2 separate regions of the Homo sapiens genome follow, and region 1 is linked to region 2. The links come from fine-mapping of genetic effects on plasma protein levels. Region 2 holds a variant in brackets. A gene starts in the other region. All regions are shown on their reverse strands. Region 1 holds the start of SPARCL1 (SPARC like 1). Region 2 overlaps HPR (haptoglobin-related protein).

Evidence for each region. A credible set is the group of variants that fine-mapping cannot tell apart. PIP is the posterior inclusion probability: the model's chance that the variant is causal. Protein levels are from antibody-based Olink assays in UK Biobank. Linkage for the fine-mapping came from a reference panel and not from the study's own genotypes, which makes the PIPs less certain.
Region 1: SPARCL1 starts here. The variant in region 2 is the best candidate, but not a certain one, in a credible set for the plasma level of the SPARCL1 protein (UK Biobank, PIP 0.77).

The regions. Positions count from the first base shown.
Region 1 is chr4:87,527,502-87,532,821 of GRCh38, reverse strand. It overlaps SPARCL1 (SPARC like 1), which reads left to right and starts at 3,446. Exons shown (of 11, transcript NM_004684.6): 1 at 3,446-3,777.
Region 2 is chr16:72,069,024-72,074,408 of GRCh38, reverse strand. HPR (haptoglobin-related protein) reads right to left here. Exons shown (of 5, transcript NM_020995.4): 2 at 432-517; 3 at 24-125. Among named protein-coding and RNA genes, the nearest start is that of HPR, 8.5 kb to the right of the region's middle. The variant A/G (reference allele first, on the strand shown) is at 2,343.

The sequences.
Region 1 (5,320 bases), not on the chromosome of region 2:
CCCATTGTCACTATATTTAGAGACAGAGCCTTTAAAGAGGTAAATTAAGGTTAAATGAAGACGTAAACGTGAGGATCTAATCCAACAGCACTGGCGTCCTTATAAAAAGAGGCAGAGACACCAGAAGCACACATGCCCAGGGGAAGGACTGTGTGAGGACACAGTGAGAAAGTGACCATCCACAAGCCAAGGAGAGAGGCCTCAGGAGAAACCAACCCTGCTGGCACCTTGATCTTGGACTTCCAGCCTCCAGAACTGTGAGAAAATTAATTTCTGCTGTTTAAGCCACCCAATTTGTGGTATTTTGTTACGCCAGCCCTAGGAAACTAATACATTGGGTAATCAAGGAAGAGGGTCCTACAGGCCAGGTCCTGGCCAAGATCAATACAGACACTCTGTTTTTACTGCAGCTTTTTCACTCACCCATACTTACCTCCTTCCTGGGGATCTCCACTATTCCAAAAGAATCATGTGACCTCTGACAATGAGCATATGCCTTGGCTCTTGGACTCCTAATAGGCAGGAAGTACATCTTTGATATCACCCAGAGGCTTCTGCTATATGTAACAAAGAAGTTCTGTATATGCTTGAGGATTAATTAACGTGTTCTCTGCTCCTTCCCCTGAATTAGGGGTTTTTAACTTCATAGAATCCCTGAGAGGATACTGGGGGGGAGTTTCATAGATGGGTTTTAGGAGCTTGCCCACAGCTTTCATCAGATTCTCAAAGGGAATCCTAACACTAAAAGGTAAAAAAAAAGAAAAAAGAAAATCCATTTAGATGTTGACATCTGTCACATCCTCTGACCAACAGTGATGTTACGTCTCTTCATGTACAGTAACATAATGAGCTTTTTGTCAAACTTTTCCCAACCCATTTGGACGTCTCATACGTTTTCTAAATCTGATCTGTAGCTCCATCTGTTAGGTGAGTATTGTTGCAGGTTTATTGTCCTCAGCTTTCTGAACTGTAAACTATTTTAGAAAAAACAGCTTCAGAAACAATGAGAGTTTGAATATCTGCCAACAAACATTTCCAAATAAAGCTATACTGAAAAGACACCGCGAATTCAAAGGCCTTTTTTTATTCATTTTTCTCTCTTGTTTTGTTGTAAGAAATACAGTGGGTCTTTATTAATCATGTTATAAATTAATAAGACCTCCAATAAAACTGAAAGTCAAAATTCTCAAGCTTTGCCACCTACAAATGAACTCTCTAGGTACCTATTTACATTTAAGAGATGAATCCAGTTTGCTTTAAGTAATTACTTTTTAGGTTAACACAGTTACATAAGAAAATTTATTTTGATCATTTTACAGAAGCATAAAATATCAATTTTAGCAGAAAAAAATTTTAGTCGGGTAACTTTTTTTCCAGAGCCCTTTAAATGAAATTTTTTTCTACATTCTCGTTGAATTGATGTAATCACCTGAAATCAATCTTACAAAGCCATCTTAAATAAATGGGGAATGCTAGTTAGAATAAGAAGTTAATATTTTGGGTCCCCAAGAAAATTTTCTTTAGCCAACTAAGGCCAAATCCTCAGAAATGCTTTTCTTACTTATTCTGCAATAGTCTCACTGCTCCCAAGCCCCTTGGGAGACTTGGAAAAATGGTCTGTGTCTTCCACACTTCTCAGAGCAGATGTGCACAGAGGATGTGCACACCAGGGAGAAGCATGGTCAAACACTGCCCACCCCTTTATCCTTCCTCCGAGGAGATTGCTCAACCCCTAGACCTTGGCTAAGGAAAAACATCCTATTGTCTGAGGCAAAAAGACATCAAGTCCTTTCATGCTGTCCTGGGAAAGGCGGTTTGGAACAAGTTATCCTGATTCTAGAGACGTGAGTGTTCCCAGCTGCACCGTGACTTGTTTTTGGCTCCTAGGCAAAGTGCCCAGTTTCCTCTGCTCCCAAATTTCTCCAACTGCAAAGTAGAGATAATCCTTGTTACCTTTTTCTTGCAGTGTTCTGAAAATAAATAGGGCAAATAATTCTAAAGTGTTTTGAGAGATTTGGCTGAGGGCATATTTGCCTAGAAATGTAGGTGGGGGTTTTTGGTTTATTTTGGTTTTATTTTGTTTTTGTCAGTGTTTTTGCTTTTGGCCAGACGTTGGCATGCATTTAGAAAATCTAAATTAAATTAAATTAAATTATAATTATTCATCTGATGATAATGGAACATTTACAGGATGCAAAGCACTGTGCTAGGCACCAGGAGAATGCAGAAAGGGCACATCCCCTTCCTTCAAGGAGTTTACAGCTTTCTCAGAAGCAGGTATGATATATATATGTGTCTATATCACATAATAGAGGGATTATAGATAAGTTACACAAGTGTGGCTGTCAGCCATGGTAGCTGATTTGGAATCCCATCCTGTAAGTTACAGTTGGATACCCTAGAAAAAACACCCTTACTAAGCTTTGGTTTCCTCTTATGTAAATGATAATAGCTAACATTTATTGAGTGTCTGCTACGTGGCAGGGGTGTTCTATGCAGTTTATCATGTTAACTAACTTAAAACTCAGAACAATTGCAGAGATAGATATTATCATCATTTCCATATGTATATCCCTGTCTTATAGATAAAAGCACTGATGCTTTAGAGAGGTTATATAACTTGTCCCGGGTCATAGTTAGGAAGTGGTGAAGATAGGATGCAAATCCAAGCTGGCTGGCCTCAAATTCTGCCAATCCAACCACTGTATGACACTACCCCTCAAATGGGAACACAGTAAAACTTACCATGCGTAGTGAGGATCAACTGATAATAACGCATAAAAAGCTGTTAGCACAGTGTCTGACACATAATAAATGTGTGATAAATGTAGAAGTAGCAGTAGAAGAGATTAGACACATACAAACAACCAGAATCCCGGGCCAAAAATAAGTGCACACCTCCATTCTTTTTATGGGAAACCTCCTTCTTAGATACCAACCATTATAACCATGGAGTTACAGTGGAGAGCTGTGTTGAGGGGAGAACTGCAACATTTCTGAATCAGCATACAAGTGATCTATAATATAAGGAGCAATCATTTTTATATATGTCCATTTCCAAATCTCATTCAAAGAAGGTTAAGGTATCTGAAGTACCCTTCTATTAAAATTCAGACTGTATTTGCTAGAACAATTTCCAATTGAGCAACGTAAAAATGCATCTGCTGCCATTTCTCTTCTTCCCTCCTTTAATCCCTACTCCCCAATTTCCTTTAGAAAGAAACAACAGCATGGAGTTTCTTTTCAAGGTCTTAAAATAAAAATCTCCAAAAAAGGGATGCTGCTTATAAAACCTTTCAGAGTTGTTTGAAAAAGAAAAAAAATGCATAAAGAGCCAAGTGCTTATATTCTGGCCAAGTTATGAGGCTCTGAGAACAAGAGCTTGAGGGGAAGACTGTTAACCCCATCCACGCCACCAGAATTAGCTCTTTCCCTTTTGGTTTGCAAGCACTGCCTGTAAAGCCCTCGCATGAGAGGCCAGCCTGCTAGGGAAATCCAGGAATCTGCAACAAAAACGATGACAGTCTGAAATACTCTCTGGTGCCAACCTCCAAATTCTCGTCTGTCACTTCAGACCCCCACTAGTTGACAGAGCAGCAGAATTTCAACTCCAGTAGACTTGAATATGCCTCTGGGCAAAGAAGCAGAGCTAACGAGGAAAGGGATTTAAAGAGTTTTTCTTGGGTGTTTGTCAAACTTTTATTCCCTGTCTGTGTGCAGAGGGGATTCAACTTCAATTTTTCTGCAGTGGCTCTGGGTCCAGCCCCTTACTTAAAGGTAAGTTGTAATAAATTTACGGCATTATCTAATTGCATTTGTTAAGCTGATTTGCGTGATCTGATAAAGCTGTCAAATATTTTTGCCTAAATAATACAAAGCCATTTATTTACCAAAAAAAGTTTTGTGTGATTTACAGAAAAGATACTTCATAGAGAATTTTACCATTTGTATTCATGTTTTCTTGTTTCCTGCGAAATTAAATAGCAAGTACTAATAAATGATGGTGATTTTAGTGAAGACCAAGAATAGAAATGTGGAACTGTTGATCGCCTCAGTAGCATTCAGATCTTAGTGAAGCCTGAATCCTGAAATGTGTTTTGTAGAAGTACTTTATTACATATATGAAATAAACTATAAAGAAGGTAGTTTTTAAAAAAAATTTCAAATCAAATAATTTGTATGTTTTCCATGTTTAAATTATCTAAAGTTATTCAATCTCCTGAGCCTAACAGCAATGTAGAAACGGAACTTTTTGCTTTTCCAAAAGGTAGGAAAATTTCTCCTTTTATACTATATTCTTGTTTGATTATTTTTAAGTTATTGCGATTATTTTCCCTTTCTTGGTTCCCTTTTACAGCTTTATAACTAATTATTTTTTGCCTCCTACTATCATTTGTTAAGATGCTCACACATAGACCTAAAATTTCTCTAATTCTTGATAATGTCTTATTTACAAAAGCAAAAATGGGAGAAGAGAATTAAAGAGCTAAAGAGATTATGGTAACTCATATTATAATGTACTACCATTTCTGGCTCTCTTTTCTAAAATAAAGCAATAATGTAGGTTGTGCTTATTCATCCTTCCCAGGTATTAAAGGTCACTCTGCAAGAGAAAAAAAGAAAAGAAAGGAAAAGAAAAGAAAAAAAAACATGCTTTTAACTGCAGATCAATACTGTTGAAACAGTACACCAAGAGGTACTGCAGAAAGAGTATCTCTTTTGCACTGCCTTTAATCTGCAAAGAGGTTAAATATGTCACCTTGGCATTGTATCTGAGCTCTCCTCTGGCCCAGGGCCTAAGCACATTGAATAGAAATGTTCACTCAGTCCAAGTCAGCAGAAATCTTTTTTTTTTTTATTCTCCCCTTTCTCGTAGACACCAGCTTTTTTCAGTTCACAGCTTACTCAGTCAAACCTGATGGTTGTGACTATTGTTAACTATGATTTTTTTTTTATTCAAAACACCCTCTTTGGAAAGATTTAAGTTAATATTTCTGTTCATTTAATAAGATCTAGCAAAGCAGAGCAGTTTATTTCATCTACTTATCGTCCAATCAACTAGTGCCACTTTCCACATTTTGGAGAAGAATATTCACATGTTATTTATGAACCTTGCCTTTTTCTTTCAGAGAATTTTTCACACAGCCATTGAGCAATTAGAGTGCTGGCATTTCCTTCCTAGGTCTTTTGAGATTTAATCCCCAGTAGCTCCTCATGGCACAGATTCACATATCAACTAAGTAAAAATAATAGTGATGACAGAAATAAAATGAATAGTGATGCATCTGGACAACTTGAAAACATTATTTATTTCATTTCC
Region 2 (5,385 bases):
AGAGATAGTTGTCCAGGTCTTACCATCTCCTTCTGTGCGCAGTCTGTAGTAGTTCTTACACTGGTAGCGAAACAAGTGCTCCACATAGCCATTTGCAATCTCAGGGGGCTTCGGGAAGCGGTCATCTGCAAAGAGAGAGAAGCCAGAGAGTTTACCATTTGGAAATTGTTCCCAGAGACCCATGAAAAGTCAGATGAGTGGAAGCTGCTCTGCACATCAATCTCCTTCTACCCCAAATAGAAGCCAACGAAAGCTCAAGCTCCCCTCATTTCTGGCAGGATCCCCAATGTTCTTGGCAGTCCTGAAAGCCCAGAGGTCAGGATAAGAATGGGGAACTGTGTGTTCTCAAAGAAAGAATGCAGACCCGAGAGAGTCAGAGTGGGATGTGGCAGTGCCAGGGATGCATGCTCCTACCCAACTCAAAGACTGACCTGAAATATCCGTGACATCATTGCCTGAGTACAGTGCAAAAAGCTGTCGTCCCCAGAGCAGGAGGGAAATGACAGCTCCCAGGTCACTGCAGAGAGAAAACAAGAAGGAGCGGAAAGCTGGTCTCCCTGCTTCACAGCACATGCATGCATCCACACACACAGGCATGTACACACACACACACACGCACACACACACATGCATACACACACACTCCTCCCACTAAGCAGCCAGAAAAGAAAATCAATATATGGAAGTGCTAGGACCAAGAAGTTGCCCCCACCCTCCGCCCCACATACACGCTTTAGCTGCTTCTGAGCATACCAAGCTTCCAGCAAGCTCTGTCTTGCTGGGAATTCTGCAGAAGCTTCAGAGAGGGATAGAAAGGTACATAGGTATAGGGGCCTCAGTTTCTGGCTGCAGTCAGGAAGGTACATTGGCAATAATTCAGAAGCCCTCCAGGAAAGAGAAACCTCCCTCAGTCACCCCAAAGATACTTCTAATAAAATGTAGATAACTCAAAGATGGGAACAGAGGGCTTAGTATGCTATTCCCTCTACTTCTTGAAATTTTCCATAATCAAAGATTCCTTAAATATATAATTGTTGAAAACAAATGCTTGGTGCTGCAAAGAAGAACTAGCACTGAGACAAAGGACAAAGGGTCTCTCAGCAAGGCAAATTTACTTTTGCATAAGGTTGCTCCTCATAGGTTCGGTTGCCACGAGAGCACCCCGAACAAAGGAAAGCAGAGGTTTTTATGTCTAACGCAGCTTGTCCCTGCTACTGTATCCTGACTCCATTGGCTAGAGTTGGACCGTACAATCTAAGCTGAACCCGGTTGGCTAACTTGAAAAGTGCAGGAATGTGATTACACTGCTGGGAAGGCAGGAAGATCAGTTTTGCCGGGAGAAGCCATTGTGATGGGAGGGGTAATTCACAGAGTGGGTAGCAGATGTGGAATGTGGGCTCTATAGATAACGACTGGCGGGAAGGTTGTTTACCAGCGCAGGGAGAACACAGAGAGTAAGGAAGTCTGGCCTTGAAAGCAGGGAGCAAAGAACAAGGAAACTTAAGCAAGCTGAACCTTTGAAGAAGAATTTCTTACTGTATTTAACAATCCCCCTGTTAAATATTTTACAGTATTTTTTCTTTAAACCCTTTTAACATAATTTGGCTCTGTTATTCTACTTGGGTCTTCTAAAAGAAAAAGCTCACTGGAACGAGGAGGAGGAGGATTGAGGGAGGTTTTGGGGAGAGCTGTTTCAATGAGCTTTTGTATTAATCCTAGGGCACAGGGTATGACACAGCATCCTACAAGAATAAGCAACCCTATTCTGATGGCAAGAGACATGAGGATTGAGGACATAAATCCCTTCCATTTGCCAAAGAATTTCCCATTAAATTTGTGAAGGGGTCGTTTAGTCCAGAATTTTTGGCTAGCTCATTTGATAAGGCAGTAAGACCTTGTAGTGCTTTTGGTGTGATCCCACCTGGAGTAGTATTATTAGGGATAAAAGTATAGCATCGGGTTCCGATAATGACACAATCTCCACCCTCTTTCGCTGGTATCATGTCTAATGCTATTTTATTTTCCCAGGCCATTTGACTGGTGGGTCTTAATTGTTCAGCTGTCCCTTTAAGAGCATCTCTAGTATAATTAACAAATCATAGGCTGGGCACAGTGGCTGATGCCTGTAATCCCAGCACTTTGGGAGGCCGAGGCAGGCAGATAACCTGAGGTCGGGAGTTTGAGACCAGCCTGACCATCATGGAGAAACCCTGTCTCTACTAAAAATACAAAATTAGCCAGGCGTGGTGGCACATGTTTATAATCCCAGCTACTCGGGAGGCCGAGGCAGAAGAATTGCTTGGACCCAGGAGGCAGAAGTTGTGGTGAGCCGAGATCATGCC[A/G]TTGCATTCCAGCCTGGGCAACAAGAGCAAAACTCCGTCAAAAAAAAAAAAATCATCATTGGTTGTAATAAATGTAGTTTATCTAATTCACATTTTTATTTATAGTTAACCACCAGAAGAACGTGGATTCAAATCCTGCAGTTGTCTGATTTTGGGCCTTAAATTCATCTGGCACTCCTCGTTGGACTCCAGTGGAATCTATATAAATGTGGGAGTCAACAGACCCATGAGGGGCCTCTCTTGTTTTACAGTGTTTGGTTTCTGTCTTTTCTGGTTGATGAAATGCCAGGGTGAAAGGGATAGCCAATGGAATTAGAGTGCATGTTCTGCTCCAGTTACTCGGCAGTGTCCAGTAATGGTCCACCACAATACCACCATACATCCGCTCGAGGATGACTAAGGGCAGACTGATGGGTAAGCTCTTGGAAGGACTTAAGCTCACTGCATCCCATTAAGGCTCCAAGGAACACCAAGTTTTCTCCCTGTTGTGAGAGACACAAAGTAAAATTGGCATTGGGAAACGGAAGCTGATGGCCCTCGGGGGCTGACCCTCAGGGTGTTGAGCTTCAGGGAACAGCAGAGAAAGAGCTTGACATGATTTGTCACCCCAGGCTGTGTGATCTTGGAAGAGAACTACCATACAGCTTATGCCCGGTCAGTTAGAAGACCATCTGAGTGGAAAGGGGACAATCTGGGCCTCTGGTCTACCGTGAGCACAAGCATAACATTCATATTTGTTTAAAGTGCAGATGGAATATTTAATCCATTTTAGCCAAGCATTTGCATCTTGACATCCTGTCTCTAGGGCTATAGTCTGCTTTAAATTTTTTACCTTTACAACCGTTACTTTAGTTGGGTTGTTTTGGAGATGGGAGGAGGACGCTGAGCTCGCTATACTTGGAGAGAGTGTTAGATTCCACTCGTTTCCCAGACTCTGGGTGTGGATTTTTTTTTAATTATCATTGTTAACCAGTGGTTGAAGATTTTTATGGGATTTTGTTTTGTAACATTTGCTCCTAATCCATACTGTTTGAATATAGTGGGTTCTTGGGCCATTGTTTGGGGGTTAGCTATAATTAGCAATGAGGGGTTACACTGCAGTGGCTTACAGTTTGGTGGGGTGGGACCATGAATTAGTTGGAGTTTCTGTTTTAGTCCCCATAACTTATTTGAAAAAGGGGGCCTGGCTGTCCACCCTCCATACTGAGTGGTTTCCAAACATCTGTCCAGTCACCACAGGGACTTTTTAAGGTTCTATACTTATACTTGGTTGACTTTTTATGGTATGGACATAGGTACTTATCTACATGAGACAGCTTCCTTTGAGCTTGCTTGTCTCCACACAGGATGACTGAACAAGCATCAAACTGAAGGATTAAAGGATGGTTAGCCCAAGTTACATTGATGACAAGATGACCTTCTGTTGGAAAGAAAAGAAAAAATAAACAAGTGATTATTAAGCCCTTTTTAGAGTTAATTTGGTTGGGGTGAGCCCTGGAGTGACGGTTTATGATCCTGGAGGTGGCAGCGCCTTTTTGACGCGGGTGTGATCAGTCCATCCTCATTCTGCTGTTCGGACTGCAGTCTTAGTATTTAGGAGCACCAAGTAGGGTCCTTCCCAAGCTGGTTTGAGTTTGCCTTCCTTCCACCCTTTTATGAGGACATGGTCTCCAGGCTGACGCTAATGTGCTGGAAACTCCAGCGGTGGCGCCTGTGCTAGGAGACCTTTAGTCTTAAGGGAAGAGAAAGTAGAGTATGGACCAAGTATATAATTTTTGAGGAACTGATCTTTTATTTTGAATGTAGGAATGTTAGCAGTGGAGTATAAATAGGGCAATCCATAGAGCATCTCATAAGGGGAAAGGCCAGTATCTCTCTGAGGAGCAGTTCGGATTCTTAACAAGGCAATAGGAAGACATTTAGTCCATGGCAATCAAGTTTCTAGAACTAATTTAGTTAAGTGGCTTTTTAGAGTCTGATTCATCCTTTCTACTCTTCTTGAGGAGGAGAGATGCCAAGGGATATGGTTTTTCCATTTTATGTCTAGTACCTGGGCTAACTTTTTAATGACATATGCAGTGAAATGGGTTCCATTGTCTGAATCAGTGCTTTGTATTAGTCCAAATCTGGGTACAATGTTTTCAATTAATGCCTTAACTACGTTACTGGTGGTTGCATTTGAGTGTGGGATAGTCTCTACCCAGTAGGTAAAGTGGTCTATTATTACTAATAAGTATTTTAAATGACCAATTGGGGGCATTTCAGTATAATTAATTGAACACTTGGAAATGGTCTTAGCCCTGAATCTCTTTCTCCAAGGGGCGGTTTTCTTAGAATCTGCTTACTAGTCTTTTTACATATTAAGCAACTATCTGTAACTTGTTTGGCTAGGGTGTAAATTCTTATACATCCATAGACCCTGAGAACTGCATCGCACATGGCTTGGGATCCCCAGTGTGTCCTCAGATATAGTTGAGACTAGATCTTCCACATAACGGGCTTGGATAACATTTCCTTTTGGTCTAGTAACAGCCGTTTTCATTCTGGTCTTCTCCTTTGGCTCCTATCTTTATTCTTCTTTTTCAATGGAAGAGAAAAAGGAAATTGCAGTAGGGGAAGGAAGACAAGGAGTTAAGTGAAACATAGGTGTTTCGGAGGAAACAGCAGCTTGTTTGGCTATCTGGTTTGTTAGGTTATTTCCTCGACTTTCAAAAGAAAGGCTTTTCTGGTGCCCGGGTACACGGACAATAGCTATTTCTTCTGGCAACTGAAGGTTATCCAGTACTTGGATGATTAACTCCTTATGAACAAGGTCATGACCTTTACTATTAGTGAGGCCACATTCAGTCCAACTTTTTCCAAATGTATGAGCCACTCCAAAGGCATACTTAGAATCAGTATAGATGGTTCCTTCCTGGTTTTGCAAGTGCTTTAAGGCTTGGCTGAGTGCAAACAGTTCACAAGTTTGGGCAGACCAATTATTAGGCAATTTTCTTGACTCTGTTCTTATACATAGAGAATTTCTCCATCGATTACTGGATAC